Linked DNA regions of Homo sapiens. The protein of the gene in region 7 interacts with the protein of the main gene of each other region in a biochemical or structural test. Each region holds a gene or a part of one and is shown on either strand. Other genes may lie near its edges. The genes, in order: PARD3B, PDLIM1, RHPN1, DLG3, PDZRN3, PTPN3 and GOT1L1.

Region 1 (3,970 bases), on a different chromosome or scaffold from region 7:
AATGCTTATAACCATGCTAGGGATCAAGAAAGTAAATAAAACAATGAAAAAATGCTTACTGAGCAAAGGTTTTGTCTACGAGATCCACATTGTTGATTTTTACAATACATTCATTTTCGTGAAATAGTCCCTCCCGCTTGGACCTGCTGTTGTCTTCAATGCCTCGGATGAAGAGTCCTAGAATCCTAAATGCAAAATTTAGATTGAAATATAATTACTGAATAATAAATGCTAATTATTTCTCCACTTGCAACTATTCAGAAATACATATTGATTTCTATTTACAAAAGAAATTTTACTTTATATTCAGGCAACTGTTTGTTATTTTAATCCCTAATCCAAAAAAAGCCAAAACTGACTACAAGAGAAAAAGCCCTTCTAGATAAATATGCATAAGTACCAACATCAATCTGCGACTTCATTTCTCATGCTTGCAGTAAACTTATTGAAAGGCTAGTTTACTGGAGTTGACACCAAAGACTTGTGGTTTGGAGAAGGGCATCACACCTGACTATAGTAAGTCTGAGTTAGTGCCAACGTGGCAACGTGATGTTTAGCAGTGGGAGAGCATTAGGATATTCACAGTAACATTTTTGCAGTCTTACTACCTATTCTAAAAATTTGCATTTTAAGAAGTAAAGAAACATTTAAGCTCAGATCATATTACTCAGTTTAGAAGGAAGCTGGATCCCATTTGTTGGTGCTACCAAATCAAGTATGTGTTGGGTGTTTCCTGTGTGATCAGGATGGAGGAGTATGAGACAAAGTCATAGGACCAGGACCAGGTAATTTCACTATACATTTGGGGGACAGCTGAAGTCCAAAAACTAAAGACATTAACAAGCCTAGAGCCTTCAAAGATTTGAGAGCTAACTAGATGGGAGACCAGTGCCACACACAAAGGCTTTGAACAAACAGCCAATGAACTTAATCTGATGGACCTGGAGGGGGGCATCTAGCAGACCCCGCTTCCGAGTAGGGCAGCGACATGATGAAGGCAGGCTTTGGGAAGAGTTGTCCAAAATTTCAACCAAGAAGAGGCTAAATTAGAGAGGATACAAAGAGGCCTCTGGATTTTTGTGGCTGTAGCTTAGAATCAGGAGGGTTGGAAGAGAAGGAAAGAAGAAAGAAAACTATAGCCACTAGAATTAAAATATGTGTGTGTGTATGTGTGTGTGTGTGTGTGTGTACACACATACATACACAATTCTGTTACATATATAAACCAAAACTAAACCAAAAACCGTAAGAAATGGAACTTATACATATTTTCATTATTTCTTATTTGTGGGATTTCCCTTCTCCTCGTGATGTGACAAGGCTTAGCTGTGTCCAGAGTAAGAAAGATAGATATGTCCTGCAAGAGGAGTCTGCTACATTTGGAGAAACTGTGATCTGCACTTTATCAATACTCTTGCTTTTCGACTTTGTCACTCTCTTTTGTATAAAATCCATGTGTGCTATTACAAAATACCTTCACATTAAATTTCAAACCTAAATAAAACATGAGTACATTTTATGTGTAAATAACAGGGTCAGCCATAGAAAAGGGGAATCTACAATGCAAGTATTAGAGAAAGTAGTCCTCCTGTTTGGAGTGGCCACGGAGTTGAACCTCTGTCCCCTTAATGAGCTCCCATCATCTCAAGACCTCAACAGGCATGGCAGTGATATTTGGGTCTCACTTCAAAATGTTAAATGAATACAGCACGCTGCTGCAGGAGAAAGAACAGCAAACAGCCATGCCATCTACTGCAGGGAAGGCTCAGGGTCATAGGCACAAGTGTGCAGTGGGGTCTTGTGGTTCATTTCCTAGTTCCAGTAGGTTAGCAAATTAGTCATATTCTGTGTTACTTTAATCTTGAAACACAGTATTAAAAATGAAACTATTTGACACATTAAAATAATAGATAAAACTTATGGGTTTTTTCCCTAAATTAAACAGCATCCTAAGAGTTCACATTTTGGATTTTTGTTAGGGTGGATTCACAATAACTTGATTCATTAGGAGGCTCACATGTGGTTATAAACGTGTTTATGTAAGTGATATTTTTTTAACAAGCATTCAAGTCTTCCTTTAATTTAATTCAGTACATCATCAGTCATGTAATGTTACTCCCTAGGATTTAATTTCACATTTTGGGAGATGAATTAATTCTTTCGGGCCACTGGGTTGCAATTTAGCTGGCATATTACAGCTGGAGTATGCTATGTGAACCTCACTGATCTAAATAATCTAACTTTCCATGAAAAATTTATTGACAGAATAAGCCCAACTGTAAAACCCATGTGTCAGAGGTAATTTTGGTAAAATGTAAAACTGACTGATTTTATTAGTTTGGTCCCTGGCAACAAACCACTTCTGCCCTCTCTGCTCCGTGGAAGGGATAGATTCCCTCCAGTTTGATTTCATCCAGACCAATACAAGAAGGCTCAGAAAACAATACCTCATTATCCTCTTTGCCCTGAACTGGTGGGCTGTGGTAGCTGTCTCATTTGGGACCAAGACTCGCAGAATTTAAAGATTAATGCTGTCGAGGAGTTATAGGCCGAGACTAACCAGTTAATTTGCATTAATGAACAGTGATAAAGGATGCTGAAATCCACAGCCTCACAGAATTAGAGGGGTAACAATTCTTCTTGCTCTTCTAATTATCATTTAGGCACCAACATCTTCTCCTTGCCCCCTTCCTGTTCTTTTCCCAATGTCACACAGCCTCAGTGACTCTACCAGCTTAGAATTTTGGTTTGAACATCTCTTCTCACAGTCTTTATCAGCCTTCATCCAGTCCTTCTCCTTCTCTCTCCTGTTTAGCTGTCTTCCCTATGAAACTGAGGCATATTATGCATCTGTACTGAAACGAATTAGATTTCATGTTTTTAATTCACAAAAACCACATTGATTTTAAAAATCTGAATAAAATTAAGTTGCATTTTAGTTGCAAGAACTTTGGTGTTTTTTTTATGTTTGCTTTGTTTTTACTGGGAAAGCCAATGGCCCTCAATACAAGCAGCATTCAGCACCCCTCTGCGATGGTATCTAATGAATTCATTGAGGCTTTATCTAGCAGAGCAGCCACTATAATTTACTTATTAGGATGATCTAACTTAGATTAGGTTTCTTATTCAACAACAGGTGTGGCAACATTTTTCTAAAAGAAAAAAAAATAAAAAAATACATTGGAGGCAAAGCCAATTACAGTAATCTTAGTAAAAAAATTAAATGTAAATTCTAATTTAAAATAATGGCACAAACCAATAAATGGAAGGAAATTAAGAGCAAAGTATACCACTATGACCTTAACGAAGCCCCTGTGCTCACACAGTGAAACCATATGGCATTATGAAGTCAGACACTTGTCTGACATGCTCTATACACAGTTGCATCTAGACACATGGGTTGAGTTAAGCGTGCTGTTTCAGCCTGTACTCATTACTCCTTAACTTTTATTGGCTCATGTCTCCACTTCCATAGCATTTTTAATGTTTTTTAATTAAATTTCCTTCCTATAATACTGGTGGATAGCAAAAAATAAATAATAGAACTATTTCACCAAGTTACTGAACAGTTAACCATGAACTTATAATAAAACTACATTTCTGAATCAGGCTTTTTGGTTTTAGCCAAAATAATCATCAGACTGATGATTTACACGTTCATACATTAGGTGTTTTACAAGGAACTTTCACATTTTTAATGTTATTTAATCCCCATAACCTTGATGTAAAGTAGGTACTCAAAAGGGGCAAGTTTAGGGGACTTGCTCAAGGTTATAAAAAAGAACACTGGGATTCAAATCCAGTTGTTCTGAAACCACGTCCAATACTCTTCCTTCTATTCTACAAGGCTTGTGCTAGGAATCAGAACCAGGAAAAGGAAGGGAGGAAATCAATAAAGCTTAGTGTATTTCCCTCGTTTGAAGTGAGAGAATGTGATTTCTGATCTATAGGATCAGCTTGTTTTCTGAAC
Region 2 (3,970 bases), on a different chromosome or scaffold from region 7:
AACATCTGAATTTGATGCAGTAGGAAACAGGGAGCCAACTGAGGGTTGAACCAAATCACTTCCGAAATCCTGCCTTTGCGGGACCCCTTCCAAGGCTAAATGAAAGAAGAATGGAAATTCTACCCTAATTACAGCTCCCAAGGTGCTACCCTCATTCATTCTTTTATCCCCAGCGCTCCTTGCTTGTCATGTACCTAAAGTTACACTCAGTACTCTGCTGCTAATGTGTTCAAGTTTTTCTCTGTTATTGCAATCTCCTGGCATGGTACCCACTGCTCAGCACAATGCAGTAGCAGCAGCATCCTAAGGACATTTTTTTTTTTGAGATGGAGTTTCGCTCTGTCGCCCAGGCTGGAGTGCAGTGACGCCATCTCAGCTCACTGCAAACTCTGCCTCCTGGGTTCAAGTGATTCTCCTGCCTCGGCCTCCCGAGTAGCTGGAACTACAGGTGCACGCTACCACACCTGGCTAATTTTTTAATTTTTAGTGGAGATAGGGTTTCACCATGTTGGCCAGGCTGGTCTCAAACTCCAGACCTCAAGTGATTTGTCTGCCTCGGCCTCCCAAAGTGCTGGGATTACAAAGAGAGCCACCGCACCTGGCCAGGACATTTTACTTACTCAAAATTTTGGTTGAGTTGGATCAAGTGAAAATGCAAGTATCTTACTGAAAGAAGCCCACATCATAAGCACCGTGAAAATCAGAGGGGGGCTGGGCACGGTGGCTCACACCTGTAATCCTAGCACTTTGGGAGGCCAAGGCAGGTGGATCACCTGAGGTCAGGAGTTCGAGGCCAGCCTGGCCAACATGGTGAAACCCCATCTCTACTAAAAATACAAAAATTTGCTGGGTGTGGTGGTGCACATCTGTAATCCCAGCTACTCAGGAGGCTAAGGCAGGAGAGTCACTTGAACCCGGGAGGCAGAGGTTGCAGTGAGCTGAGATTGCACCACTGCACTCCAGCCTGGGCAACAGAGTGAGACTCCGTCTCAAAAAAAAAAAAAAAAAAAATAGAGGGGAAATAAGCAATCTGAAGTTCAAATTCCACAGACCTTTTGGCATGCCTATAGTATATACATGGCACTGAGCTAGGAGGTCTGGGGGATTCTGAGATAGGGAAGGCAGTCCCTGCCCACAAACAGCTTCTAGTCAATCAGAAATGAACAAAACGTTTCCATAGGCTTCACCTGGCTACAGTGAGAGTCAAGTTGTCTGTGCAGCCTTTGATTCTGTTCTGAGCTTCCAAGTGTGTCATATTGCTAGTATTTTCCCCATCAATGGCTGTGATTACATCTCCAATACATAAATTAGCTAGAGCCGCCTTGCTTCCAGGAGTGACCTAGAAAAAAAGGGGAAAGCAGGCTAGTTACTATTTGTCTCCAAACCACTAAGTTACCACCAAGTTAAGTATTCACTGATATGGAGCAAAGCCCTGAAAAAGAAAAGAGGGCTGAAATCATAGCTTAAATAATAACAATCATTTATATTATCATTGACAAAGAGGGCTTTTCTAATATGATCTCATTGTATCCCTATAGCAACCTTATGAGAAAGGAGGACAAATAGCAGTCCCCATTTCCAAGACCAGGATCTGAGGCTTAGAAAGACCTATGACTTACCCAGGATCACCCAACTAGTATATTATTATATTACTGGTCCTCCAACTAGTGTATTACTGAGCCAGGAAACAAACCCCGAACAGATCTGATGTCCTTCCCACTGAACCACGTTTGCTTCCTTAAAATTAGTTAACAATTACATTTAAAAAAACACACACACACACATTTAGAGAACATTATATACTATAATACCCTATTTCTTTAAAAATCTTAATAATGTTATATATACAAAAGAAAGTGGAAACACTGCACACTAAATTGTTCACAGTTATACAGTTTTGCAATGTTTTTTACAATAATATTGAATTACTTTTTAATTTAAAAAATTGTTGACCAGGCATGGTGGCTCATGCCTGTAATCCCAGCACTTTGGGAGGCCAAGGCAGGCGGATCACCTGAGGCCACGAGTTTGAGACCAGCCTGGCCAGCATGGTGAAACCCTGTCTCTAACAAAAATACAAAAAAATTAGCCGGGTGTGATCTCAGCTATTCAGGAGGCTGAGGCAGGAGGATCACTTGAACCCAGAAGGTGGAGGTTGCAGTGAGCCAAGATCATGCCTCTGTACTCCAGCCTGGGCAACAGAGTGAGATTTCGTCTCAAAAAATAATAATAATAATAAAATAAAAATTTAAAAAAAAATTGTTAAAAGCAATCAAGGATATCCTAAAGTATGGTAGTATAGGTTTATACTGGTTTAATCTCCCAAAATGACTAGGGTCATTCCCTATAGACGGCTGGTTTTCTGCAGACTGATGCTTCTAAAACCAGTGGTTCCAAATTGACAGATCATTGATGCTTGGGGGAAGCCAATCAATTACTGCAATAGGTCCTTAAATTCACCTGCCTACAGAGCAATACATGCGGACTCAATACATATCACATCTCCTACACTGATGTACAACCATTTTTCAAGTGAATACAGATGCTATTAGAATGAACAAGATCCAAACTCATTTTGAAATAGTACTCACCTCAGAGTACTATCTCTAACCAAGGTATCTGGTTAGATTTTCTAAACTAAGGTATACTAAAAATATTACTGTCATCATCCCAGGGTAAGTTCACAACTTTTTTTTTCCACATTACAAGACCTTCCTGGATGGGAATTCCAAGTCCGCAGGATCAAGGTGGCAGTAACACCCCCAGGCTCCCAGTGCCCACAGGGCTCTGGCCACCCTTTGGAGAAGGCCCTTGACTCTCGGGATCCAGTTGAGGAAGATCTTATGAACACCTGGGTGTCTCCTTATGGCTGAACCACAGGTAACAGGTTCTTCAAGGCACCAAACCAGGACACACAAGTTGGGTCCTAAACCTCAGTATCTGATGCAGTTTTCAGCAGCTACAGTTTCCGATTAGCCCTCAGCGCAGCTAGTGTGGTGCCGCTATTATGGTGCATTCCCCATCAGCACCCTGACCCCAAAAAATGAGGACAAGTTGATCCTTGAGGTCCCTTCTGGCCCGCACATGCTATGACTTTATCAGGCAAAACTCTCCTGGAATGTGGCAGGATGTGGAAACCAGTACCGAGATCCTGACCTCCTAACCTTCCTTTCTGGCTCTCCCATCATTTGTTTACCAGAGATCTGGGTTTTAGGAAACGAAAGCAGCCTCCTGATTCAAGGTTCAGATCGTCCCCTCATCCAGCCACTGGGACAGGACTTTTTATCCAGGCAAGCACAGGCCGCTCTCATTTCAGTCAACAATGAGAGTTAGCTTCTGAGTCATCCAGTGCATGCAATAAAAAAAAATTCCTCCGTTTTCTGACCTGTTGTCCTGAGAAGACTGATCTGGTGCATCTTCATACACACTTCACTGTTACTAAAGGACAACGCAGGCTCAGTTTTTAAACGGCTCTAAGCATCATTTTATTTGGGATTGGCAAGCGTTCTTGACTGACAAACTCTAACTCCAAGGAGAGCAGCCTGAATCAAGGAGAATAATGCCTTATGGAACTCATTTATCATAGCTAAATCTAGCAGTTTCAAAGAGCAGTCCCCTTAGGATGAAATCCAAAATCTTTAACAAGGCCGCTAAAGCCAGTGCCTCCCTCCCCACCCACATCATGCCTCTTCCCCACTGGGCTCCAGCTACAGGGCCTCAGGACTTTCACACCTGCCTTTACCTCTGCCTGATTAACTTCTCATCTTCCAAGTGTCTGTGTAAACAACCCTTCTTCTCAAAGAGGCCTTCCTTCACCTCCAATCTAAGCTATACCCCCACAGTCATCCTTTTTTTTTTTTTTTTTGAGACGGAGTTTCGCTCTTGTTGACCAGGTTGGTGTACAGTGGCGCAGTCTCGGCTCACTGCAACCTCCACCTCCCGGGTTCAAGCGATTCTCCTGTCTCAGCCT
Region 3 (3,970 bases), about 110 Mb from region 7:
GAGAACGCTGCCCTTCTCGAAGGCCAGGGCACGCTGCTGGGCCGGGACCCCAGTAAGCGAGTCGTACCTGCAGTGTTGGGTCAGGCTGGGTGGAGTTCCCACGGTTCCCGCAGCTGGGCCTCCCCTCCCCAGGGTGCCTCCGCCCGCAGAGCCCCTACCAGTGGAAGAAGAGCCCGAGGCTCCTGGCAGGGGTGAGGAAGCGCGCATCCAGGAAGCACAGCTGGTTGTAATAGGCTGTGAGCAGCTCCAGGCCCGACTCATTCCGGCTGGGGGTCCGCATGGCCTGCAGGGCAGGAGCCACTGGGCCCCACCGCCCTGGCCCACCCCACTCACACACACTGCCCTGGGAAGTCCCATGGGCACCAGCACCATGGGGGGCGGGGAGGCAAAGCCAGTGGGGCCCTGGGCAGCCGTGACTCCCGAAGGCCAGCAGCATGCGGCACCGGAGCCACCTGGGAGCCCCTCCACGCCCCCTGGCTGGGTCTGGACACACAGGGCCCCTGGTGCGCCCGTCTCCCCACGTCCTCGAGATGTCTACGCTGAGCTCCTCTGTCTGTTCCTGACTTCAGCTTCAGCCTCCGCATGTGTCTCCCAGGGCTGCAGGAGGGTGGGTGGGCGGGGGAACCACACACCTGCCGCAGGGCCTCCAGCTCCCTGATTTCTGCCTCGTAGGAGGCGCCGTCCTCTCCAAAGTGCACTGAGATCAGCTCCTGATGGGGGGCAGGTGTTGGCATCCACAGTACCCCTGTGCCTGGCCTCCTTCCCTGAGGTCTCCCAACCCACCTTGGGAAAAGACTCATGGTGGAGGGAGGGTCTGTGCCGCAGAGCAGGCTGGCTGCCATGCAGCGTGGGGGCCCTGGGCCCCTCAGTGGAAGCCCCAGAGAAGGGCTGGGGGCCAATGTGTATGGAGGGGCCTGGTGGGTTGATGCGGGTCGGAGCCCCTGTGGCCCTGGGGTTTCCCCACCCCATCACAGAAGCGGGGCCTGGAGACTCAGCGCTACTTTTACGTGCGTTTCCTTATTCATCCCCGTGGCCGGGAGGCAGGTGCCATCTGCCACTCAGTGACTCGGACACGGAACACAGTCAGTGGCTCCCGTGGGGCCCTGCCAGGCAGTGCCAGTCTGTTCTAGCTCTCCCCAGGACCCTCGTGAGCCAGTGCTGGGTGTGTGGCCCCAAGCCAGTGGTGCCCTCCATGGGCGAGCCTGTACCCTGTGCTCCGGCTGGGGCTTCCAGGCCCCATCCTCCTAGGGCATTGCCCATCCGAGGGTAGGGCACATGTTCACACCCACTCTATGGGATCAGCCCCGGCCTGGGGCGCAGGCACCAGCGGGGCCCTGAACGCAGCAGAGGCTGGGTCCCTGTGGCCATTTCTGCCAGGTCCCTTGCGTCCCTTTTAAGCCTCCCTCCCTCTGGGCCTCAGTTTCCCTATCTGTTCAACCAGACAGCTGGACCAGAAAGCCTCCAAGACCCCCTTGGTCCCAGGGCAGGGCCGTGTATCTCAGAGCTTGGAGGCCAGTACCTACCTTCAGCGGTGTAGACCAGTCCAGCTCCTTGGTCTCCTTCAGGCCCAGGGGGATCATGGGGACAGTGACAGCTTCGCTGTAACCAGAAGCATCGACTTCAGACTGTAAGGCCAAACCCTGCTGCCCACGGCAGCCCGGGGTCCACTCCTAGGGCTCTGTGGCACAGGGTGCCTCCCTCCCTCATGGGTGTGCACGTGCGCCTGTGTCCTGGGGGGCATCCTTGCACCTGTGCACCACCCCCCACCGTCCTAAACCGCCCCAAAAGCAAACACACACACACAGAGACACACACATGCGCGCGCACACACACACACAAACACATGCGTGCATACACATGCAGACACACATGCGCACGCACACACATATATGCACACACGTGCAGACACACACACGCGCACACACAGACACACACAGACACACGTGCATACACGCACACATAGAGGCAAACACACACCCACATACACGCAGACATGCACACGCACGCAGACACGTGCACACAGACACACGCACAGAGATGCACACACAGACACATGCAGACACACAGACACACGCGCACACAGACGCATGCACACACATGCACACACATATACACACAGAGACACACGCACACACACAGAGATGCACAGACACATGCACACAGACACACGCGCACAGACATGCATGCACACACATGCACACACGCACACACACAGACAATGCACACATATACACACAGAGACACACATGCGTGCACACACATGCACACACACACGCACACGTGCACACACATACACGCACGTGCTGTCCCGGCCCCCACCCGCACCTCCCATGCCGGCCAGGGTCCACGCCACCGCTGAGCTCCTCCAGCTCCTCCTTCAGCAGCTGCAGGTTGGAGTTGACGTAGCTCAGCTCCAGGGCGACCGTCTCTCTCACCCGGTTGTTGCTGGTGGCTCTGAGGGAGGCCGCGGCAGTTGAAAGCCCAGCCCCAAGGCAGAGCCAAAGGCCCCGTGCCCACTGCAGCCGTCCTGCCAGCTGACCTGTCAAAGCTCCAAGCCCACCCTGCAGAGGACGTCGCTGACAGGGTCTGCCCCCCATGGGTGGGGCAGGGGCAGCAGTGGGATCCGGGGGCTCACAGGTGATGCCCCCTACAGTTCATCACCCCGACCCCAGCACCTGCATGTTCCGACTCTGGCCTGGGGGCACCTCCCTCAGCACCACGGCTTTCTTTGGGGCTCATACAGCCCTCGACAGCACTCAAACATCACTCCTTGGATGGTGGGTGAGAGCCACACACCTCTCTGTGCCTGCATCAGGGCCTGGCAAAGGGACCGGAGGTCCCCAGGGAAGGCCAGGATGGGGGCAGGGAGGTAGCAGGTGCTAAGGGGACCGAGGGGCACTCACACGCACATGTGTGGCACACAGGCGGTGTGCTCTAAGGAAGAGGCAGCCCAGGTCTTCCACCCCCTCCCAGGTCCCCAACCTTGGGACGCGCCATCACCTGCCACAGCTCAGCCTCAACCATGCCTCTTCTGAGAAGCCCCCACGTGCACTGTTGGGGCTTCCCAAGCTGCACACCCGGCAGGGACACTGGTTTCCTGGCACCTCCAGCCCAGCACAGAGGCCCACGGAGGCAGGTCTGTGAGGGTCATGGCTGAGCATCACGTGTACTACGTGCCCACCAGGACCCAGCTGCTCATGCACCTGTCTCTGTGACCCGGCCATGGGGCAGACATCTGCCTGCGTGGCTGTCCTGCCCCCCTCACCCAGGTGGGCCCTGCTCCCGGGGCCGGGCAGTCTCAAGCACTGACCTGTAGAGGTTCTCAGCGCCCGTCCGCATCTGCAGCTCCTTGTCAATCTGCTGGTGAATCTGGGCCCTGCGGCTCTGCAGCTGGCCGCACTGGATCTGCGTCAGGGAGTCACAGCCCTGCAGGGAGGCCACAGGCGATCACAGCCCGACCCCGTGGCGCCCGCACCAGGCTGCGCCTCGCCAGCCACTGAGAGGAGTGCATCCTGCCCATGGGTAACGGGATGGTCACCATGCGCTGGGGCTGGAGCTGGCCTCACAGGGAGGGGCTGGACAGAACTAGTGTGAACACAGGCCTGGCCAGAGCAGGACAGGAGGCAGTCAATGCAGAAGGACGTGGTCGGTGGGGTAAGCTGCTGACTCGTGATGGGGGTCAGCGGGGGAGGCTGGCACCTGCCAAGGACACCAGAAGCCAGGGTCTCACCAGGCAGCCTGGACAAGTAGGGGCTCCGGGAGCCCTGCAGGAGGCGGCCCACTGCTCCTCACAGCCTTCCTTCTGCGCTTCTGGATTTCATTCTGGATCCCCCCCTTGCCCCTCCCAATTTTTTTCCCATCCAACTCACCCACGCCTCCAAATCATTCCCATGTGGGTTTAGGCGTGGGCTCAAAGGACAGGGTCCCTGAGGCTCTGGGGGCGGCCACTGGCCCCCGATGGTTGGTGCAG
Region 4 (3,970 bases), on a different chromosome or scaffold from region 7:
CCTGAGCCCCTGGCCCTCTCGTACTTGTCCCCAGAGCCCTCTTGGTCTGCCAAGTCCCTCCCTATGTACTACAAGCCATACTTCCTTCAGCAGCATCCTCTTCATCTGAATCAAATTGACCTGGATGGTTTCCAAATCGTATTTCAAAATGCATCTCCCAAGGCTAACAACAGGAAAGAAAAGACAGTGACAGGAGCAAAGAGAAGTCCAGGGACCAGTCTGCTCATGGGTGTCCCCCGCCCAACAGAGCCCCTGAAGTACAGAACCATGTGGCACTCCACAACTAAGAGGCCAAACGCTGGATGGGTTAAGCAGACACCAGGGAGCGCTGCTCTGACCATTCGGTGGGCTCCCCAGCCTTCCTGCCACCACTCCAAAGCAGGAGAGCCTGGCTTCAGTGGTGAGAGGGGAAGCATCTCCATCCACCACCAGACACATATGTCAAAACACAGACAACAAAACCAACAAAAACACCTTGAGGACAAGGCAGCCCTCCTGTCTCACACAGCTGGGATCTGCCCATCTCTTAGTGGTGAGGGAAAAGAAAGCTCAGGCGGAGGAGCAGCGCTCGTAGGAGGCACAAACAAAGCCCGCCCATCCAAGATGACACGCGAATGAAGATGAGACATGGACACACCAAACTATGGAGAGAGATGCTGCTCATTTCAGCCAAGACCACACTGTTCCAGACCATGATATGCTGTGGCCCCCCCACCCAGAAAGGACTGGCTGAGTTGCCACACATGGCTAGTTCCTGAACAATCCCCATGGGCAACTCCTTTGCCTTTGGTCTGTATTATTTATTGAAGGAGAGTATATGCTGATAGAACCCATTTGGTGTCTGTGCACCCTTGCACGCAGCAGGATGGCCACTAAGGCCTCATCATCTAGGTCTTTTTCATTTTCCACTCCAGGATTCTTTTCCAGAAAGGAAAATGAGGTTGGAGTTTTCCTGAGATAAAGCACTAACTATATATGGTCCATAAATGATGCTGAGGCCCCTAGCAGACCAGCTCAACCCCTTACAGGTGCTCTGTGGGAAGCCAAACAGTGGCTGTTTGCTGAGGCCCGGGATCTGCTGGGACATCTCAGATGCAGGTTGGGAAAAAGGGGTCACAGTACCCTTGCCCCTAGTTAGAGGACTGTTAACAGCTGCAATTCCTACACCCAATTCTTTAGCGTGGTATCACTGGGAGAAGAATCCAACCAGCAGGCACCCCTCCCTTCGACAATAGGCTAGAGATTAGCTGAGTGGTTACCTTGGAGAAACATTTCAAGCTTACTTCACTTCTAAGGTGGGATGCCATGCTCACGCCCTCCCACTTTGAGTAGCAAAAGGTAAACAAAGGCATGAATGATATGGACTTATTTGGGTACTAGGGATCCATAGCAAACATGTAACATATGGAGCCACATGCACTTCTTCCTGCTGTGATGTCAGAGTGCTCACAAACACTGCCCTCCCCTCACCCTTCACCCTCACCCATGTCCCCAATAGCCCCACCCCCACTATCTCCATTCATGCCACAAGTACAGTGAACGGTGTGTAAGTTGGACTTACTCAGGTTCTTTGCTCCATAATAATCGTCACTTAACCCCGGGAAGTCCTGATTTCACAGACAGCAAGGGCGGAGAGAGGACGACGGGGAGAAGAGGGGGGAAGGGGAAGGGATGGGAGGGAATGGAAGAGAGGGAGAGATTTGGGGAGAAGAGAAAAAATAGAGAAAAAGACAAGGGGGGAGGAAGAATACAGAGGTAGGTGAGCACTAGTGACAGAATTATGAAACACCATGAAGACCTAGCACTATAGTGAGGCCAGGAACTTTGCCACAGAAAGAACATCCCAGGGCAGATAAGACATCAAGACTTCATGCTGCCCAATTCATTGCCAGAGGGCCTTGGAGTAGACTAGCTTTCTGAGGTGTCTACAGCTGTAGGCCAATGGGACAGGACAGGTGACACTCCAAGGCTTAGAGCACCTGCTTTGACTAAATTTTGGTTGTGGAGCCCAGGTCTCTGTTTGCCCCTGAAATCACCATTTCCCTCTGCAGTGCGTGAAAGAGCAAATGTCCGCGTGTGCCAGGTAGGCAGATAGAATTGCCATCACCTCAAGAAGCCTTTGCCCAATACTGATTCACTCTGTTCAAACCCTTCAGGAAAAGTTTCGCATGGTGTAGAGTGTGGCCTCCAAAGCTGCCCTGAGCTGGACAGATCTTGGGGGATGAGCTCAGCTTCTGGAGAAGCACTAGGCACCTTCAACTCTGTCATCCAGTAGATACCCCCTCGCCCACCAGGCGGGACCACTGAGCAATGAACACCTCCCCAGGCTGGGCTTGGCATGGAGGGACTCTGGGACTCATCTGATGAAACTATGGTGACATCACCTCAGGCCTCTGACTCAGACTGTCTCCTAACTGCTCATGAGCAGAGCCACCCCGTCTATGGCTTCTCATTGAACTACTCCAGGATGATGAGCCGTGGCTGCCATCTAGATGAGGGCACCCTTCTGTCCACCAGGTACCACCCCAGATAGCAATGACTTACACATACCATGACTGTGGACCAAGCTGGCCTGACAGAAGGACATTTCCTATCAGAACCAGTCAGTCTCCTGCCAGCCCCAATAGACCAAGACCCCAAGATCCCTCCATGTAAGACAGAGGAGTCACTGGTAAATGAGAGATGTTTACTGTTCATGATGAGACAAGTGAGAAGACATTTTTCAAGCCAGACCTGGTGTTTAAGGTTAAGGTTGGAGCAGTTAATTGCTGAGGCACACGGTAGAGCAAGAAGATTTATCAGGATTAAATTTCTTCTTCCGTTGAATTTAGCTCAGTGTGACTGCTCTTCCTACCGAACCAACTTTGTGTTTCTCAATAGATCTTTATTTGAACAATGTGGAGCAACACTCCTTCCATGTCAACTCATTTAAGCAGGAAGGATTCTCCTGGGAAAACTGGCTCTGTAGGCACTCTAGGATGACAGCGAGTCTGCTGAGAGTTGTGTGGATATCCTGTATGCTTATGCACGTGCATGGGATTCCAGAAGTAGCCCCAACTCCAGGGATCCTGGGAAGAAAAGGCTCTTCTCTTGACATACATGAGTGAAGTTAAGGGAAAGAAAACACAAGAGGAAGAAACCAGGAGAGCAACACTGAGTCCCTAGACCTTGTTCTCTTGAAAAACCATTTTCCTGACCCTGACAGTCTAGCTAAAAAACCGTTCCTCACCACCACAGCAGAGCTCTGTCTGGCACTTCCACTGCTAGTGCCAGGCACTTCCTGGAGGCTGACCCTGGGACCAGTCCCACCTCAGTGCCTCCAACATTCATTCTAACTGAGGAGCAGGACAAATAAAACCCAACATCTCCTTAGGCAGACCAGTTTCTGCCCTGACTCTGTAGATAAGCAGGTGCACACGCACACAGGCAGGCACGAGGCCACACGTGGCCCTGCCCAGGCTTCTCTCGAGGGAAGGGCAACTGAGGATGAGAGGATGGGGCTGCAGATGGCCTGCTCTCTGGACTCTGCTGCTACTTACGTTCCTGTATGCTGCTCTCCTGGGCCATGTTTTCTTTGCTCTTGTAAAATGGAAACTTTCGAGAGAGGCGGAAACTCTTTTTACGTTTCGTTTTGATCGACTGTGAAAGAACATGAAGATGGAGGGGAAGGACAGAAGAAAAAAAAAAACAGAACAATGGATTTTAAAGCATGCAAGAAAAACTAAAATGGAGACAACGGTGAGCTAAATAAAAGACCATCTCTCACAAATGGAGTCTATGAGATTAAATGAAAGTTGATGTAAGAGGAAAATTATGTTTACAAGAAAATGTTGTAGGGATGTTAGAAGTTTCTACATAATCCAGACACTCATAACACTCACTGGTACTTCCTAAAGAACAAAGGTCACTGTAGCCTCCTGGACACATGCCCTAAGGTACCACTGATATACACATCTACTCCACGTCTCTC
Region 5 (3,970 bases), on a different chromosome or scaffold from region 7:
TGAATCAGATTACTTGGGCCTGAACCCCTCCCTGCTTTATCACCCTCCTTCTGGGCCTTTCCTGGGTAACTTTTGAATCTCTGGGAACTTCCATCTCCTGGGAAGGCTCTCCTGTGTGTAAAGTGCTCCACGGAGGGCCTAGCACTTATTCGGTGGTCATATCAGTTTTAATTATTTATCATTCAATGTTTCTTTTAATTTGAAAGAGCAAGTTTTAATTCCCCATACTCTGCTATTGTAAATGAAACCTGCACAGATCAAGGCTGGAACATATGTCAGGCCTTGGGAAGTCAAATGTCTTGACGTGACCCCGGTTGTGTTTTCCATTCAATTCTGTTTCCTTTTCCTTCCCTATGATCCCTGCATTAATGAACGTCGTGGGCCTGCAGTATAGATGCCAGGGTGGGCATCTAACCAACCTTAAATGGCTAACTCATAAAGTGAATTCTGAATCACAGCAAGTTTGATTACATTTCCAGGGAACAAAGCACCTTCAAGTTCGCAGCCAATACTCAGGTGCTCTTTTGCAGGCCTGGGGATCTTTTGATTTTAGAAATATAGACCCAGTTTCATCTGTAGGAAGCCAATTTACCTGGAGTTCAGGCCTTGCAATCAGCAATGAAAAGTTTTTATTTTCTTCACTGGTTAGAAGAGCCACAGCCTCTTCACGGTTCTGCACCTCTATCCCATTAATCTTTTAAAAAAAAAGGGGGGGTGGGGAGAGTGGGGAGACAAATAGCATGATTAGATGGTGCAAAATCATTCTATTTTATTTCAGACCTGCATTTGTCACCCACTCACAGTTAGAACATACAACTTCCGTGTAGCTGGAAAAGAATACTGATGTTAGGAAGGAAAGGTCTTGCTCAGACCAATGCAGTTTCTCTGGTCTATAAGGGAGCCTCCATGAGTATAGTTCATGAGGTGACTGTGATGTGTGGGGTGTGAACAGAAGGGGCTGGACCTCCAGAAGACGGCACTGAGAAAAATCATAATGCTCTGCAGAGGGAACATGGAAGCAATTAGACATAATATTCAGGCAGGAGTATATGTAGACATTATTGGATAATATAGAAGAAAAAGCAGCAAACTGAGGTTAAGAAAATGGAATAGAATTATACATGGTGTTTTGTGTCCCCAGTTTGACACTTAAACTTCTTTGGGCCAGGCGGAGGGTCAAGTGGGCGTGACACTCTCACTATCACACTTGATTAACCCTCTTGCAGGATTTTTGCTTGCATGTCCTGGTGACTTTGAGCCCTGCTGGTCTGGAGGTCTTAGTCCTGGTGGAACGCCGCCTCCAGGGGACACAGCAATGGTTCCACTGAATTGGAAGTGGAGGCTTCCATATGCCTCCTTACACTAGTGAGCCAACAGGCAGCAAAAGGGGTGACTCTATTGGTTGGAGTGATTGCCCTCAATTACCAAGGAAGATGGGCTTGCTGTGACACAGTGGAGGCAGGGAGGATTGTGTCTGGAACCTAGGGGATTCCTTGGAGTACCTCTGAGTGCTTCCATTCTCAGTAGTAAAGGTTAATGGAAAACTCCAGCAATCAAAAAAAAAAAAAAAAAAAAAAAAAAGAGGCAGTATGCTGAGGACCCTGACCCTTCAGGTGTGAAGGTTTGGGTCACTTCCCTAGGGCAAGCGATCCTGAGCAGCACAGGTTCTGGCTGAAGGCTAGAGAAACCCAGAGTAGGCAGTGGAAGAAGAAAATCAAAATGACCTGTGGTGAGGTATGCAATGAGAAAAACACAGTGGATTAAGAATGAGAGGATACGGATGAGAAGAGGTAGAAAGCTAAGCCTTGTGGACACAATGAAGCCAAGAATTTCAATTCTGTGAGATTAAAGAAGGTTGTAGCCAAAAGAGACATGAATGGTCTCATTTGGACTAGACGGAGCAACAGGGCTCGAGGTCAAGTAATGACCCTTAGAAGCGATTCCAGGATGGTTAGATGTTGAGTCAGAAAATTTCTAAGACTTTTCAATCGATGCTGCTAAATTTGCCAAAAATGTTCCCCTTTTATGGACGAGCCTCTGAAATGCTTGGTCCAAAGTTAATCTTTCAGAGAAATCTAAAACGAGAATTATTTTAGTTCACAAGTTGTAAACTGTTGGCCTGACTTTGGCTCACTGATGTTTGTTTTGATCCAAACAGAATGAAACAAAATAAGGAGAACTGGCTCAAATTTTGCAAGGCCCTCTTTGGAGAGAACATGCCCCATCTAGTTTGTCCCAGTCCTCACCACTCCCTCTTGCGTCTTATGACTCAGAGATAGCCTCACAATTAGTTTAACTTGTCTGGCCTCACTACACATCTGCGTTTGTGATCCCTGTTCTTTAACCGCTTCTGCATTTTCAACCCTAGACCTATCATTAGAACCAGTTTGTTCTTTAGTGATAGGCCCATCATGAGGCCATTGTTTGGAAGTGGACTTACCTGGATAATGCGGTCTCCTTCTCGGATGCGCCCATCCTTGGCTGCAATGCTGTTAGGGTCAATCTGAAACACACATGGACCATCTCAGCGCAAACGCAGACATGCATGAAAATAAGCAACAGCACTTTCAAAACCATTTCTAAAACACAGTCATGCTCACCCCTGTGTTTCTGTTTTGCACAGAAATAAACAAGACTTAGTGTCGTGCAAGGAGAGGCAAACATGAGCTGATCTGCTTCTAAGCCCTTTCTAGGGCTGGTTCTTGGATCCCTGTGTAGCAACCCTGTTACACAGCAGTGTGTGCAGGCTCTGCTGATCTGAGGAGGCACAGCTGACTTTTGTTGCATGCATGGTAATTAAAATCAAATCAATGATGTAGAACAGGTTAAAGGATACCCTTCATTATGTGGACTAGCAACTATACCTTATTTTATACCAAATACTTGTATTAAAATTTGGAAAATAACTTTAAAATTGAAATATAATTGGGACAAGGGGGACTGGTAAGGGGAGGGATGTCCCCAAATGCAGAAAGGATGGGTTAACTTAAGCTTGGTGAATGACATACAACCAAAGAGATAATTATTAAGTCTAGTAGATCATTCTGTAGCGACAAATTTTATTTCCTGACAAAATTGGGTTTCTGTGTTTGCAAGGATGGGTGTGCACTGTAAAGTTTCCATACTGAAATCAGTTGATTTGTATTATCTTCTCAAGGAAGATCAAAACAGCGTGCATCTATGTAGTTTGATAAGTACATACAAGTCACATTTAACTTATATGAAGTCAACTATATATACTCCACCAAGAGAAAAAAAAATGTGTGTGTGTGTGTGTGTGAGAGAGAGAGAGAGAGAGGCTTTAAAAAGTGTAAGTGATTCCATCCACCATTCCACTCAATGAACACGAGTTGGGAAATGTGAATCTGCTCTTCCCTTGGGGCTAAACACACAAAACCATGTAAACGGCTCCATTTTATGGCTGATTTGCAGGCTTCTCAAGGGTAATTTTGCCATAAGTACTGGCATTAGAACTTAACCTCCGTGGAAAGATGCAGCGCCATGGAGTGTGATGAGGGGGACAGAATAATTTGTGTCTTTCCAAAGAGATCTTGATGAGGTGGGTTAGGGTTGGTGAACATGAAAAAAAAAACCCTTTTGGTCTTGATACGATAGTTAGAAAAACAAAATCAGCCTTTGTACCTCACTGATATAAATCCCAATGTCGTCTTCATCGTCCGTCCGGTAGCACACAGTGAGGCCCAGCTTGTCCTGGCTGTTCATTCTGTAGAGGTCCACTTCCTAGACAAAGAAAGGCATTCCCAGTGAGACTCCAGCAGGCAATGCGAGTTGAGGGGATGTCAAATGCTTTAAAAATATTATCTTCAAATGAGGAACTGGATTTCTTTGCATTCAACTGTGTAGGGCCGGTTAACTTACTAAACAAAAAGTGATTATGGACACAGGATCAATGCCTACGGCATTTCTGACCTTTCACTCAATATAAAGTCATTTTGAAAATAGTTATTTC
Region 6 (3,970 bases), on a different chromosome or scaffold from region 7:
CTCCTCCTCAGTTTCTGGCATGTTTCTCCATGACTACCAAATGTTACTAGAATAAGAGGGTGAGACAGAGTTCAGCGAGGGTGGCCACCCTGATCCCTGCTTGCTGCTCCGAGCCTGAGAAGGGGGCTGCCTGCTGTGCCCTGTTATCCACGACAAGCACAGGCCTCGCCCTGTCAGTCCTCAGAGACTCAGTTGACTGCTTTTGGTTTGTGAAACACACAATCATCTCGACCAAGGAAACAAGGGCTTGTGTCTCTGCCTCATTTCCTCCACTGCTCAGAGGCAGGGGCAGCCCAATAGGCGACATGGCAGTGGGATTCAGCCTCCAGAGGGTCTTACCTCAAACTGGATCAGCACCGTCCCGCTTTCGAGGCCCTTCTTTAGCTGTGCCATGGATCCCTCCAAAGTGTCCCCACCCTCCGGACACATGGGGAAAATGGCTTCGGGGAAAAGCTGGTTCAGTTCATCTTCAGACTTGAAGTCAGCAAATGAGCGGACAGCTGTAACGTACAAGACAGTGCATCTGACTTGTGTAGCAATACTCAGGTTTATCCGTCTCCCTCAAACAAATCACACCTATGACACCTGAATGCAGATGGTTCAAAACATCTTATTAAATGATTAAGCTACATGGTAATCATTTTCACCAAAGATACTACTTCTAGGTGAATGATTCAATATGTGTTAATTACATAAAATGACATACTAATCTTCCTGGTTAGTTTTAAATAATGGTGTTTAACACTCAGAGGCTTTTGTCAAAGGTAAAGAAAAGAGAAAGAATGTTATTTAAAAAAGCATATTGTTTCTGCTTGCTCTTTCTGACCGGGTTATTCTTCTACCCATCCCGACTCCCCTTTCTTTCTCAGGTTTTTTCATTTACTTCCCTAAAATGGGCATTTCCTCAGGCATGAGGGTGAGGTCCCAAGCTTTTCCTGTGACACCATCATTCCTGAGAGCTCAATCCCTAACTCAGGGCCGTTTCTATGTGGGAGGCTCCCACGTAAATATCGTAGTCCTAGCATCTCTTCTGTGCTTCAGCCTTACCTCTTTAGTGCACGTTTTCCCTTCATGTTAAATTCAATACAGGTGAAAGCAAAGCTAGGACCACCCCCCCACAACTCCCAACCTTGCACAGGTGGGGAACCGGAGAGATCTGGTAAGGCCTCACGGAGGAGGTGGGGTCAGAGCTGGTCCTGGTGGCTCTGGACTGAGAGTTGCAGTGGGAGCAGAGCCGAGGCAGGAGCACAGCAGTATGGAGTGTCAGCCAAACGTGTGAGGCAGGCAGAGACGCAGGGCTTTGCAGACACAACCTTCATTTACTTTCAGTATTTTACAGCTGTGCACGGTGTTCAAGGAACTTGACGTATTATTTTATAACAACAACTATAAAGACAACAGTGTGATGCTCAGTAGAGGCTGTCCTTCAAACCTCTGCTCCCATCAGGCAGCAATGCAGGTACTTTCCAGTCTAAGTGCCATTGATTGATTGAATGATTGAGATGGAGTCTCACTCTGTCACCCAGGCTGGAGTGTAGTGGCACAGTCTTAGCTCACTGCAACATCCACTTCCTGGGTTCAAGCGATTCTCCTGCCTCAGCCTCCTGAGTAGCTGGGACTATACCCACATGGCACCATGCCTGGCTATTGTATTTTTAGCAGAGATGAGGTTTTACCATGTTGGTCAAGCTGGTCTTGAACTCCTGACCTCAAGTGATACACCCACCTTGGCCTTCCAAAGTGCTGGGATTACAGGTGTGAGCCACTGTGCCTGGCCCCAAGTGCCATTTAATCTTCACAGCAACCCTGTGAAGTCGGGACCACTGCTGTCCTCCTCCACACCTGAGCCAGCTGAACCACAGACTGGTTATGTAACCCCTGCAAGGTCCCCCAGCCCGCAGAGGCAGAGTGAGGAATCACCCGAGACAGTCAGACCCTGCTCTCCTCACTGCCTCCCCGACAAAATCAAACACGCACGAATAAAATATCACCAGATCCTTTAAGAAGGGGCTGAAAATGCAAATGTCTGCAGAGTCATGCCACTTAGAGAGTGCGTGATGTGGGCTGCGCTGGGCCTGGGAGGAACTGGGAGCTGGGGGCTCATGTCCTGTATAAAGGGGCTGCAGGGGCGCTGTCTCCCCCCAGAAGACTGGCCACATGGGGACAGGCCTCCTGGGGGCAGATCTTCACATTTTTCAAGTGAGAAGCCAAACATTCGGTTATTACCTGAAGATTCTTGATTTTCAAATGTTGGCTACAAACTCAACATTTTCAAGAGCAGATAAAGGGCTGGAGCAGGCGCAGCTTGGCTAGGACAGCTTCCCTATGGCTCCTCCCCCCAGGTGGCCATTACCTCTCCTCCTGATCACCAGGGCCAGCTCCCGTGAGTGGGACTCCCGGCTGGCTTTGATGAACATCACCACTTGGTCATGCGTGTGTTCTGAGATGTCCCGGCCATTGATTAACACGATTTGATCCCCTTCGTTCAGCTTAGGAATGCAGGTGTCCGCCTGGGTGGTGGGGAAAAGCGAGTTTCTCCTGTTACCATAACACAGTCCTTGGGGGAAGAACGCTGACTCGCTCTGCTCCCAGACACCTGGGACCATGATCAAGTTTGCCTTCTCTCCCTCGGGTAGTACTGTCATTATTTGTATAATGCATCCACTGCTATGTGGACATGGTAGATGGTTGTAAGATATAAAGAAGTACTGCTCAGAATATAAGTTATGAAACATTTCAGAATAAGGATATAAAAATTGCTGAAGCCATTTCTCCGTGGTAGTCAACCTTCACTTATTATAATATAACTATACCATTTCCAGCCTTTTGTTTCCTAGATGTACTGTTAGGAAATGATTTGCCAGCTAGAGGTGAGTATTTATCTGTCTTGCAAAGGTGAAAGCTTTTGTAAGCTTCACAACAGAGGCAAAAACCATTATGGAGAGAAGCAATGAATTGAACAGCACAGGAAAGAAAGCCTTCTGAATTTACAGAAACTGTAAACAGTAACAAAAGTTAAATGACAAGAGCTTAAGGACTACCTCAGAGTAAAATCCCAACGTGGTTCACTGTAAGGAGGCACAGTGACTCCTACTGCTTTAAAAAAGCAGATGATTAAAAGGTAACTATGGAGCCAGGTGAGGTGGGACACACCTGTGGTCTCAGCGACTTGGGAGGCAGAGGCAGGAGGATCGCTTGAGCCTAGTTTGAGGCTGCAGTGATCATACCACTGCATTCCAGCCTGGGTGACAGAGCAAGAGCGAGACCCTGTCTCTTAAAAAAGAAAAATAGGTTAACTATGGAAAGTGATGAACATGTTAATTTGTTTGACTGCAGTACTATATGTATAACAAGACATCATGTTGTACACCTTGAGTATGCACAATAAAAAAATTAAACGAAAAAATTACTTGATATTATTTTAAAAACAATAAAATAAATTTATTTTATTTTTGAGACAGAGTCTCACTCTGTCGCTCAGGCTGGAGTACAGCGGCGTGATCTCAGCTCACTGCAACCTCTGCCTCCTGGGTTCAAGGAATTCTCCTGCCTCAGCCTCCTGAGTAGCTGGGATCACACCTGTGTGCCACCACACCCAGATAATTTTTGTATTTTTTGTAGAGATGGGTTTCACCCTGTTGGCCAGGCAGGTTGGTCTCAAACTCCTGGCCTCAAGTGATTCACCCTCCTCGGCCTCCCAAAGTGCTGGGATTACAGGTGTGAGCCACTATGCCTGGCCTAAAAACAATAAAATAAATTTGAAAGAAAAACAAAGCAAATGCTCTTCTTAGGAGGCCTACACAGATGACAAAAGGGGCACTGGTGGAAAGATGGTGAGAAGAGGCACAGGGCCCACGTGCCCACTTAGAGTGAGCAGAACAGCAGACTGCCTAAGTTTCCTTCTCTTGAAAAGGACTTCTCAAAATTGAATGCACACTAACCACTCAAGGCTCTTGTTAAAAATGCAGAT
Region 7 (4,689 bases):
GAAGTGCTCCTCCATGTTAGTTACCATTGAAGGGCCAGGCAAATTCAAACCTGGAAAAGGTCTTGGATGACTTAAGAGGTGTGGGGAGGAGAGGAACATTAGGCTGTAAGTCAGCTCTAGGGAGGAGTTTCTGAGCGGGGCCCCTCTACCTCCACCACATTGAGGAGTATGTCGGGGTCCATGCATAGCTTCTTGGGGTCCCAGACAGAGTATTCATAAACTGTAAAGCCCATGTCCTGGAAGACGAGTCCATGCAGTTCTGTGGGAACACAGCCCCCCACTAGCTGGTACATGGGAAACAGAGAGACGGAGACAGAGGTACTGGAGTGTGGGGCTGAGAGTCACTGGCTGAAGGTGGGACATTAACAGGAAAAGGACATAAATAGCTTGGCTTGTCTGCCATTTTGCTCATGACAGAGAATGAGGGATAACAGTGAAGATGGCAAATGGGGTGAGGATTAGGAACAAGGGACGGGGATTGCTGTTCCCCTCATCTTGGGTAAGACTAACCTTTTTGAGAAGAGATGATGTAAACTATACGAGCATCCTTATGCCAAGCTCTGAGAAACTGGACGCCAAGCTGGAAGGCACCACTGTCACCAACAGTGTGTACACCCCCTACCTGCCAGCAAGACATAGACACAAATAGGCCAGGTGTGGTGGCTCACACCTGTAATTCCAGCACTTTGGGAGGCTGGGGTGGGTGGATCACTCGAGGTCATGGCCAACATGTTGAAACCCCGTATCTACTAAAAATACAAAAATTAGCCGGATGTGGTGTTGGGCATGTGTAATCCCCGCTACTCAAGAGGCTGAGGCAGGAGAATCACTTGAACCCGGAAGGCGGAAGTTGCAGTGAGCGGAGATCAGGCCACTGCACTCCAGTCTGGGTGACAGAGTGAGACTCCGTCTCAAAAAAATAATAAGTAAATAAACATTAAAAAATAAAAAGAAATAGACAGAAATAACACTCTAAAACAGTAATGGAGGCGAGACGCAGTAGCTCATGCCTGTAATCCCAGCACTTTGGGAGGACGAGGCAGGGAATCCCCTGAGGCCAGGAGTTTGAGACCAGCCTGGCCAACATGGTGAAACCCTGTCTCTACAAAAAATACAAAAATTAGCTGGGCGTGATGGCACATGCCTGTGATTCCAGCTACTCAGGAGGATGCAGCACCAGAATTGCTTGAACCTGGGAGGTGGAGGTTGCAGTGAGCTGAGATGGCACCACTGCACTCTAGCCTGGGTGACAGAGTGAGACTCTGTCTCAAAAAATATATATAATAGGTTAAAAAATAAAACAGTAATGGGAATACTAACACCACCTCCAATTCAGATCATTCCTGTCTTGAAAGAGCTTTCAAATCAGCAGTGTGAGCAGGTGGGAATACCACTGGACTGAGATTCCGATCCTGACTCGATGGCTAAGGACTTGTGGACTCTCTGAGCCTCAGGTATCTCTTTTATCAATACCAGGGGGCCCTCCGAGGTCCCCTTCGGGTTTAAGGTTGTGCAGACCCAGATCGCCACTCTCTGTGTCTAAATGAGCCAGGGGAGGGCCCACCTTCTCACCCTGTTCTCCACAATGGCTTGGCTGTGCTTTCCAAAGAGGAGTGCTAGAGAGGCCTGGATGAATGATTTCAGGCCCATGGTGGGCAAGTACTCATAATTCAGGGAGGGATCCTGTGAAATCTGTAGTCGAGTCTTCTGCACCACGAGAGAAACCCAGGGATGGCCTTCATTTGTCATGCAGACTGTGAGGAAAACCACAGAGGGAGCTCCAGATGCCTGGTTTGGGCCCCCAGGGCTGAGCTCTGCAGACAGCCTGCAAACAAATCTCTCCTGGACTCCATGGGGCTGTGGGAAGGTGCCTGTGAAAATACAACTTTCCCTTTTCTTTTCTCCTTGATGAAAAGAATATGCTGTTAGTGAATGTGTATTATTTTTGTCTTTTTAAAAAAGACAACTGAAACCTATGCCATTTTAAAGGTTAAAAATTATACAAGCCCAGGATTGGTGGCTCAGGCCTGTAATCCCAGCACTTCGGGAGGCTAAGGTGGGTGGATCACTTGAGTTCAGGAGTTCAAGATCAGCCTGGGCAACATGATGAAACCCTGTCTCTACAAAAAAATACAAAACAGCCAGACATGGTGACCAGCGCCTGTAGTCCCAGCTACTCAGGAGGCTGAGGCAAGAGGATGGTTTGAGCCCAGGAGGCAAAGGTGGCAGTGAGCTGAGATCTTGCCACTGCACTTCAGCCTGGGCAACAGAGTGAGGCCCTGTCTCAAGAAAAAAAAAAAAAAAATATATATATATATATATATATATATATATATATATATATATGCAAAATGAGAGTTATAGGTAGATGAAGCTAAATAAAGGTAACCCTGACTTTCACAGTGGTGAGCCCCAGTTGCATAGCAGAAAGCTCAATCTGGAGAACCATTCTTGGTTCAAGAACAGGAAGAGAAAGAGAAAGAGAGAGAGAGGAGGTAAGAATCTGAAGAAGTGTGGGATGGCCATGCAGGCCCCCAAGCATAGAGTTGTGGAAGAGGACATAGCTCTCACCAAATCCCTAGAAGCCCCCAGAGAAGGGCAGAGAGCATGGAATGACCTGGGACCTTATCTGCACTTTTCCCCACTGGGTAATTCTGTTAACAAGAAAAGATCTCTCCACCCACAGAAGCTTGGGCTGCACCCCTCCCCCTGCAGCAGGGAACACTGTCCTCCTAGAGGCAGTTACCATCACTTAAGTCTTATACTTCAGAACTGCTAGGCATCTACCTCTATAGGCTAAGAATATCTTGTTCGGGTAATCATCTTGTTTGTAGGTCTTTAACAAGCTGCCCTCTAGCTTGTGGGCGAGGGGCACATCCATGAACACTGAAAGGGTGGGCATAACTGAAACGAAACTGGAGCCAAGACTATGTGTCTCTGCTCCTGTGTTCCGCTTCTGCCCAGAAGTCTTCCTCCAAGGCTGGGCCGGGCAGTCCTGCCTCTTCCTGGAACCTTGGCAGCCCCAGTGCAGAGGCGCTGGACAACGGGTTGCCAGGGCAACAGAACCTCATGATCTTTGTGGTGGCGATCCACAGGGGCCACAGGAACATTCCAGGGTACTTGAGGAGAATCCCCTCAGACAGCGGGCAGGGCAGGATAACAATCTCCGGAATTCCCAAGCCCGTTTCCCTCACTCAATGCCTTCTCTTCTCTAGCCCCAGGTGGCTCAGTCCAAAGTAACAAGCCCACTCCTTAGATGACAGGGCAAGGATAATGGGAGATTACTTAACAGATACAATGTACATTGTTGGGGTTATGGATACCCTAAAAGCCCTGACTTCACCACTATGCGATGTATGCATCTAACAAAATTACACTTGTACTTCACACATTTATACAAATTAAAAAAAAAAAAAAGAAAGAAAGACATAGGGCAAGGCAGGCAGCCAATAAGCCAGATAGGGCTTCTCCTGCAGAAGCAAAAACCCCAGATCACACACCAATGCAAGTCGAGGCATTGATTTCCATTTTGCAAAGTGCCCCAGATTTCAAAAGGAATAAAAAGCAAACACTGTTTTCTTCCACAGTTGTTTTAATAAAGAATCCTATTATTAGAATATAATTGGCAACTCACTAAGCCAGTCCTATTTCTCTCAGTTATCTAGAGCCAAGACTTCTACATATGTTTGTTAAGTTTCTTTTTCTTTCTTTTTTTGGTTTTTTTTTTTTTTGAGATGGAGTCTCACTTTGTCGATAGTCTCGAACTCCTTGCCTCAGGTGATCTGCCTGCCTTGGCCTCCCAAACTGCTGGGATTACAGGCATGAGCCACCACACCTGGCCATTTGTTAAGTTTCAATGACAGCCAACTAGTAAGTATAGACAGCAGAGGCCAAGGGGAGAAAAGAGCCAGCCTCTATAGAGTCAGTCTGCATATTGCTTGCTTTCTTTTCCTTTTGATGTTTAATGACTCTCTCTTTTTTTTTTTTTTTTTTTTTGAGACAGAGTCTCGCTCTTGCTGCCCACATTGGAGTGCAGTGGTGTGATCTCGGCTCACTGCAACCTCTGCTTCCCAGGTTCAAGAGATTCTCCTGCCTCAGCCTCCCGAGTAGCTGGGATTACAGGCATGCGCCACCACACCCAACTAATTTTGTATTTTTAGTAGAGAGGGGGATTTCTCCATGTTGATCAGGCTGGTCTCAAACTCCAGACCTCAGGTGATCTGCCCACCTGGGCCTCCCAAAGTGCTGGGATTACAGGCGTGAGTCACTGCGCCCGGCTTTTTTTTGTATTTTTAGTAGAGACAGGGTTTCACCACGTTGGCCAGACTGGTCTCAAACTCCTGACCTCAAGTGATCTGCCTACCTCAGCCTCCCAAAGTGTTAGGATTACAGGCATGAGCCACCACACCCAGCCTGATGTTAAATAACTCTTTAAATGATTGTTGCAAACACTGTTGATGTCTCACCCAGAAGGCCTTCACCACCAATGTGCCCGGCCCCAGCTGCTGCTTCGCTGGTGGACAAGGCTTATATGCCTGTGTTCTCTGGAGAATTGTGCTTGGCTGGCAGGAGTCAGCTAGCCTAGAAACCACCTGGAGGTTTCACCCCCACTGACAGGGGTAGCCAATGACTGCCTGATTTAGGCATACAAAGGGTCAGCCACAGCCAGGCATGGTGGCTCACACCTGC

What was found.
Region 1: the proteins of GOT1L1 (region 7) and PARD3B interact in a test that uses a peptide from one of them, tested with the Homo sapiens proteins (one large-scale study listed by IntAct).
Region 2: the proteins of GOT1L1 (region 7) and PDLIM1 interact in a test that uses a peptide from one of them, tested with the Homo sapiens proteins (one large-scale study listed by IntAct).
Region 3: the proteins of GOT1L1 (region 7) and RHPN1 interact in a test that uses a peptide from one of them, tested with the Homo sapiens proteins (one large-scale study listed by IntAct).
Region 4: the proteins of GOT1L1 (region 7) and DLG3 interact in a test that uses a peptide from one of them, tested with the Homo sapiens proteins (one large-scale study listed by IntAct).
Region 5: the proteins of GOT1L1 (region 7) and PDZRN3 interact in a test that uses a peptide from one of them, tested with the Homo sapiens proteins (one large-scale study listed by IntAct).
Region 6: the proteins of GOT1L1 (region 7) and PTPN3 interact in a test that uses a peptide from one of them, tested with the Homo sapiens proteins (one large-scale study listed by IntAct).

The regions. Positions count from the first base shown.
Region 1 is NC_000002.12:205,115,136-205,119,105, reverse strand, and holds part of PARD3B (partitioning defective 3 homolog B), read right to left. Parts: intron 186-3,970; coding exon 60-185; intron 1-59. UniProt on the Homo sapiens protein: Putative adapter protein involved in asymmetrical cell division and cell polarization processes. May play a role in the formation of epithelial tight junctions.
Region 2 is NC_000010.11:95,270,446-95,274,415, forward strand, and holds part of PDLIM1 (PDZ and LIM domain protein 1), read right to left. Parts: intron 1,340-3,970; coding exon 1,188-1,339; intron 1-1,187. UniProt on the Homo sapiens protein: Cytoskeletal protein that may act as an adapter that brings other proteins (like kinases) to the cytoskeleton. Involved in assembly, disassembly and directioning of stress fibers in fibroblasts.
Region 3 is NC_000008.11:143,375,009-143,378,978, reverse strand, and holds part of RHPN1 (rhophilin-1), read right to left. Parts: intron 3,427-3,970; coding exon 3,311-3,426; intron 2,455-3,310; coding exon 2,326-2,454; intron 1,600-2,325; coding exon 1,524-1,599; intron 711-1,523; coding exon 633-710; intron 284-632; coding exon 159-283; intron 68-158; coding exon 1-67. UniProt on the Homo sapiens protein: Has no enzymatic activity. May serve as a target for Rho, and interact with some cytoskeletal component upon Rho binding or relay a Rho signal to other molecules.
Region 4 is NC_000023.11:70,493,045-70,497,014, reverse strand, and holds part of DLG3 (disks large homolog 3), read right to left. Parts: intron 3,640-3,970; coding exon of another isoform or gene 3,540-3,639; intron 1,608-3,539; coding exon 1,562-1,607; intron 1-1,561. UniProt on the Homo sapiens protein: Required for learning most likely through its role in synaptic plasticity following NMDA receptor signaling.
Region 5 is NC_000003.12:73,387,376-73,391,345, forward strand, and holds part of PDZRN3 (E3 ubiquitin-protein ligase PDZRN3), read right to left. Parts: intron 3,742-3,970; coding exon 3,643-3,741; intron 2,504-3,642; coding exon 2,441-2,503; intron 695-2,440; coding exon 593-694; intron 1-592. UniProt on the Homo sapiens protein: E3 ubiquitin-protein ligase. Plays an important role in regulating the surface level of MUSK on myotubes. Mediates the ubiquitination of MUSK, promoting its endocytosis and lysosomal degradation. Might contribute to terminal myogenic differentiation.
Region 6 is NC_000009.12:109,404,109-109,408,078, forward strand, and holds part of PTPN3 (tyrosine-protein phosphatase non-receptor type 3), read right to left. Parts: intron 2,511-3,970; coding exon 2,354-2,510; intron 501-2,353; coding exon 340-500; intron 1-339.
Region 7 is NC_000008.11:37,937,128-37,941,816, forward strand, and holds the start of GOT1L1 (putative aspartate aminotransferase, cytoplasmic 2), read right to left. Parts: upstream 2,998-4,689; 5' UTR 2,903-2,997; coding exon 2,788-2,902; intron 1,755-2,787; coding exon 1,573-1,754; intron 623-1,572; coding exon 511-622; intron 260-510; coding exon 150-259; intron 1-149.